Regions from separate parts of the Homo sapiens genome. Here region 1 is linked to region 2. The links come from fine-mapping of genetic effects on gene expression. A gene starts in region 2. The other region holds a variant in brackets. All regions are shown on one strand. Distances are from middle to middle.

Region 1 (2,918 bases), 76 kb after region 2:
CATATATCAGTACTTCATTGCTTTTTATTGCTAAATAATATTTATCTGTACTGCTATATCACATATTTATGCATTCATTAATTGGTGGACATTTGGATTGTTTCCACTTTTGGTTATTATTAATAATGCTGTTATGAATATTTACATACATGTTTTTGTGTAGACATATGTTTTCTTTTCTCTTGGGTATACACTTATATCTAGGAGTGGAATTGCTAGATCATATGGTAACTCTTATGTTTAACCTTGAGGAACTGCCAAATTGTTATTCCAAAGTGATTGCACCATTTTACATTTTCACAGTCATGTATTAGGGTTGTAATTTCTCCACATTCTAGTCAACACTTGTTATTGTCTGTCTTTTTTATTAGAGTTATGCTAGTGGGCAAGAAGTGGTGTCTCATTGTGGTTTTGTTTTACATTCCCTTATAGCTAACGATGTTGAGCATCTTTTCAAGTGCTTATTGACCATTTATATATCTTCTTTGGAGAAATGTCTATCCTGATTTTTTGTGCATATTTAATTTGTTAATTATCTTTTAACTATTGAGTTGTAAGAGTTTTTGTTAGTATATTCTGGATACAAGCCTGTTATTAAATATATGATTTGCAAATATTTTCTCCCATTCTGTAGGCTGTCTTTTTACTTGCCTAGTGGTGTGTCTGAGAAAGCACAACAGTTTTTAATTTTGGTGAAATACAATTTTTAAAAATATTTTTGGTCAATTGTGCTTTCAGTTTCATATCTAAGAAAGTGTTGCATAATCTACAATCACAAAGATTTACCCCCATATTTTCATCCAAGAGTTGTAAAGTTTTAACTCTTACATTTTAGGTCTTTGGTCCATTTTGAGTTGACTTTTGTATATGGTGTTAAGCAGGGGTCCAATTCATTTTTTTTTCATGTGGCTATCTGGTTGTCCCGGAACCATTTGTTGAAAGATTGTTCTTTCTCCCATTGAATTGTCTTGGCACTCTTGTCAAAAATCAGTTCTCTAAATGTGAGGTTTATTTCTGGACTCTCAATTCGATTCCATTGATCTGTTATGTTTATCCTTATGCCTATACCACACTGTATTAATTACTGTGGTAAGTTTTCAAATTGGGAAGAATCTGTCGTGCTTTTGCACTTGGTTGTTCCTTATTTTTTTTCTGATAATTTTCGGATTCATCCCATAAAACTCAACTCAGACGTCTCCTTCTCTAAGAAGCTTTCTCTAACTCCCATTGGTAGAGTTAATCTTTTATTCCTTTGTGTGTCCTTATATATTTCTCTATTGTTGAATTCCATTATAATTTATTTTTATTGAAGTCAAAGGCTGTGTCTTACTCATTTTTACATTCCCAGTGTCTAGTGCAGTGTCTGATCTACAGTAAGTGCTCAATAAATGTCTACCAAAAAGCATAGAAGAGATAGAGGTTTTGTCTGCTCAACACCACAGTTTTATCTGTTAACATTGCTGGGGCTTTTTAGCATAAGTCCAAGAGTATTTGTTCATGTTGGTGCAACTTTCTGCCACTTTTCTCATCTAGCAATGGTTGGGCAATTGTTCACTTTGATGAATC[G/A]TTCCAGTTATTCTCAGCATGCTGCTGAACATTCTCTTCTTTTTATCAGGGCCTTTATCTAATAGGATGACAAACTGATGAAAGTAAAATTATGGGAATTACAAAGTAACAGGGTGGTGTGGTTTGCTTCATCACTTGCTTAAAGTTTGGTACACACTGTCCCTGTGCACCTCCCTTTTCATTGCTGCACAATAGTAACAATAACATACATTTACTGCATGCCAGGTACCATGCAGGCATTATCATGAATGCTTCTTATCCCGATCAAAGGAAAGTTTTTAAGATTGCTTTTTGTTTAGCAAAGAAAAATCTATGTGTGCCACCTCAAACTCGCAGCTTTTTGAGTCCAGCAGCAATTTTTCTTCTTTCTTGGCATCTACTATGGCTGCATATATATGTAGTAAGAACCCAAGTGAAATAGAAAAGCCAAGAAACATTTTTTCCTTTATCATTAAATAATTTAGAGTGAATAAAGGAGTCAAATACAAATAAAAGCCATTTGATTCAGCTCTGATGAGTTTTATAATGCTAACATTTACATATGGCAGTATACTTTCTAGGTGAGAAAATTGTTGCCTTTTAGGAGTTCTTGAAAGGTTTTGATAGTATACACTTTAAGAAATGGAAGATTGTCAAGACTTTCTCCATGGTTATATGTCACTTGAATGCTAAAAACCACATTTCAGTGTGGTAAGTTTTGTTCCTGGATTTGTCACTAGCTATAGGAACTTGAGCAAGTTGCTTCACCTATCCAAGTTTCCTTAGAACTTATAATTCTATAAGTGTTATATTGACAGATATACACAACAATTTTATGCATTCATAATTGGAGACAGTATATAGACTTACACTTTTATAAATATTATACATTTATAAAAAGTAACCTTTTCAAAACAGGAATAAGGATTTATGTATGTCAGAAACCTGAATCGTATTATAGCTATAGTTTCTTTTAAGAAGGTATTTTAAGAAAATTGGTATATTAGTTATCTATTGCTGCTTAGCGCTATTATCAAAAATGTATGGCTTAAAACAATGCACATTGATTATCTCACAGGTCCTGTGGATCAGGAGTTCAGGGGTAGCTTAGCTGCTTCAGGGTAGCAAAAGGATGCAATCAAGGTGTTGCCTGGGGCTGCTGTCTGACCTGAGGCTTGACTGGGGAGGGATCTGCTTCCAAGCTCATGTGGTTGTTGACCACATTCAGTTCCTGGCAGGCTGTTGCACTAAGGGCCTCAGTTTCTTGCTGGCTACTAATCAAAGGCTGTCCTCAGTTGTGTGCCACTTGGCCCTCTTTGTAGGCCAGCTCACAACATAGCAGCTTGCTCCATTTGTCAGAAGCAAGTCACAAG
Region 2 (2,918 bases):
CCATTTTTAACCCTTCATCCAGTTACGAGTCAAACCAAGTTGATATCCTCTGCTATTCCATGCCCGGCTGCTCTACTTGTATATCACCTCTCCACCTGCAGTCCATCTTATATTCTGCTACGAGGCACATTTTATTTTGTGACACTTGGTTGGGTCTTCTTATCAACGAATGTCAGTGTCTTCTCTTTACAAACAGAAAAATGTTTCCCATTCTGTCACATAAGACCTTCTACAGGTTAACCTTAATATACCCTTCAACAACTTTCTTCAACCTGAAGGGATCACTCCTCTCCCACCGTCTCCTCTGCAGGTTCTAAGCACTCTATCCAACACGCCCTTTCTCTCCTCTGTCTGCATGCCACCTATCCTTCAAGCCCTTCTCCAATGCTATTCTCAGTGCAATCTTTCCCTAGTTTTTAATGCTTACTTCTTTCCTATTACATTTGCCTTTTATTTTGATTTATAGTTACGTTCATTCTTTACCTTCTTTGTTAGACCAAAAACTCTTCAATAGAAACTGGTCATATTTAGTAGATATATAACCTGGATAATGCTACTTTCCTGTCTCAGGTTTTTTTTTTTTTTTAACTGTAAAATATGTATCCTCTCAGAAAACACAACATGAAAGGTGTTGATTTTCCTAAGTGCATTCTATAAACAGGAACTTTCCCCCATCTTAGCTGTTAACTCATTGGTAAATATAAAGCAACCGGAAAGGTAAAAGGCATTCCATCAACACATACCCACTGCGAATGTGCAGGGAATAGGCTCTACGTGTAATCATCCTATCCTCTTGGGAAACCGTATTCGTGCGTGTAACAGAAAGCAAGCATAATTAAAAGACAGGGAATCAGGGTTCTGGCCCTTACCCCTGTATGACCTTCAGCAAACCGTTTCATATCTGAGCCTGGGTCTCGGCTTCCTCCTCTATAAGTTGGGATTAACTGCCTTGCCTTTCCCACAGGTTTGCCATGAAACTCCAAAGTAAGAGAAAGTCCTCTGGAAGAGGAAATGCACGGTCCCGACCTGGGGTGGTACTAAGATCCTAAGGCACAGAGCCCTGTGACCAAGACAGTTAAGGGAAGCAAGAACTTGCAATGACGGGGCGGGGGCAAGGGGGAACTTTTCTGCGTTCTCCGGCAGGACCCAGCGGTACAGCCCTGTGGGGTCCCAGCACAGCCGCGCCCGCCCGGCAGGTGCGCGGGCCCAGGCCCCGCGGGCGCGCTGCTCAGGCCGGGGAGAGCGAGCAGCCTTTCCCGGGGCCGGCGTCCGCAGCCGGCCGCTCTCCCCGCCGAGGTAGGCACAGCTCCGAAGCCCCCGCCCGGGTCGGTAGCCCCCTGCACCCGAAGGGCCCTCCCGGCTCCAGGCTGGGCCGGCCAGGGCAGGTGTCTGGAGGTGTCGCTCTCGCCTGAGGCGCAAACTTGGGTGAGGAGTCTGGCGTCCCTGCAGCTCCCCAGCCCGCCCGGTACCTACCCAGCGGCCGCCACCGCCGCCGCTCCTCGCCCGCCAGCGCGCCGGCCTCAGAGTGAAGGAAAGTGAAACAGAAACAGCACCCGCCGCGGCCTGGCCGGTCCCCGCGCCCCGTCTGCTCTCCCCCTGCAGGCGGGAGCGCGCCGGCTCTGTGGGGCCACTCGGCTCAGGCCCGACAGGGCGCGGCGGGCCTCGGGGCCCAGGTCCGGTGCCGCCTCCAAGGGCAACTCCACCCACTTCCAACCGGCGGCACCGCCCGCCCCGCCGCCCGGCCACGCCCCCGCCGCCCGGCCACGCCCACCACCACGCCCGGAGGCCGCGCCTGCCGCCTGCGCTGCTCGCAGGTGCAGCTGCCGCCCTGGCTCCCTGTGCTACACGTAGCTCTGGCCAAATATTATCTCGGTTCTTCTTATCCTCACCGTCCACCCCTTCGGTTGTTTACATCATAACAATGACTGGCATATTTTCCCTGGAGGGTTTAAAAGCAACGGTCAGTGATGAGACTGACGCACCCTGAGAATTTGTCTCTTCAGCTGCGTCTTCCCCAAGTCTGTCCCACCTGCGCCGAAGTGGGGACAAAGCCATCCCTTGATTTGCACCTTATCTGAAAATGACTGACAAACTTGTTACTGTAGTGTGGGTCCAGAGATCATGGTCGTTGACAACTATAAGCAAACGGGAACGTTGTGGAGGTTGAGGGTGGGGGGAGGGTGAGTGGTAAAGAAGCATTACTGTTTGCAACGTTCAAAACAAACAAAAACCCAGTACTCTTTCTAGTGGACTTTGAGATCTACAAGAGACCATTCACTGCAAAAACCTTCATTCAAAAATGTGTATTCTAGAAGCCAGAGCAGTGATGGCTTAAGAAAATGACAATAATAGAGGGTAGGGGAGACTGTCAATGCAAAATATTTGCTTTTTCTCCAACTGATAGGCGTTAACTTCTTACTAAAGTGATAGATGACTCTAAGTGGCAAACCAACAAACTTAACAACCGCTAGTCCAGCAGCCATACAAGTGTTCAAAGATCCATTTCAAATTTAAAATGCATCAAGCAGTAGACCAAGGCAGCTTTTTAAACTATCCATTTTATAATCAAACTTTGACATGTTTAAAAATTGCCATTTCTAATATCACAGCAGGAGCAATACATTTTCTGAAACAGCTTTAAATGACCACATTCGTATAGTCCTTTAAAGAACCATTTTCCAAAATCATACATGCCAATGTCCAAGCTGGGATCAACTTCATAAGTCGCAGCAATCACAATGAGTAAGAGAAAACAAGTGAGGTCAAATGACTTCATGGCAGTAGGATTACTCTTTATGCTTCATATCTTTCATTTCAGAGACTAAACAGAACAGTATGTGAAAAATCACACTACTTCTAGTGTGTTTAAAATATGCATTGGAGGATATTACTGTATATATACCACAATATATAAAAAA

Direction of the effects. Positions count from the first base shown, and alleles are read on the strand shown. Sizes are in standard deviations (SD) of each study's normalised expression.
As copies of G replace A in region 1, the expression in unexposed skin of the gene that starts at base 1,647 in region 2 goes down (moderate effect, 0.52 SD a copy in GTEx).

What was found. PIP is the estimated chance that this variant, and not a neighbour inherited with it, causes the effect.
Region 1: its variant is fine-mapped to the expression of PCGF5 in unexposed skin (GTEx, PIP above 0.99). The same link has a PIP of 0.9 or more in sun-exposed skin.

The regions. Positions count from the first base shown.
Region 1 is chr10:91,143,794-91,146,711 of GRCh38, reverse strand. No RefSeq gene overlaps it. Among named protein-coding and RNA genes, the nearest start is that of PCGF5, 75 kb to the left of the region's middle. The variant G/A (reference allele first, on the strand shown) is at 1,567.
Region 2 is chr10:91,219,392-91,222,309 of GRCh38, reverse strand. PCGF5 (polycomb group ring finger 5) reads right to left here and starts at 1,647. Exons shown (of 10, transcript NM_032373.5): 1 at 1,474-1,647. RefSeq lists silencers at 1,024-1,318, 1,008-1,467, 1,538-1,847 and an enhancer at 2,038-2,107.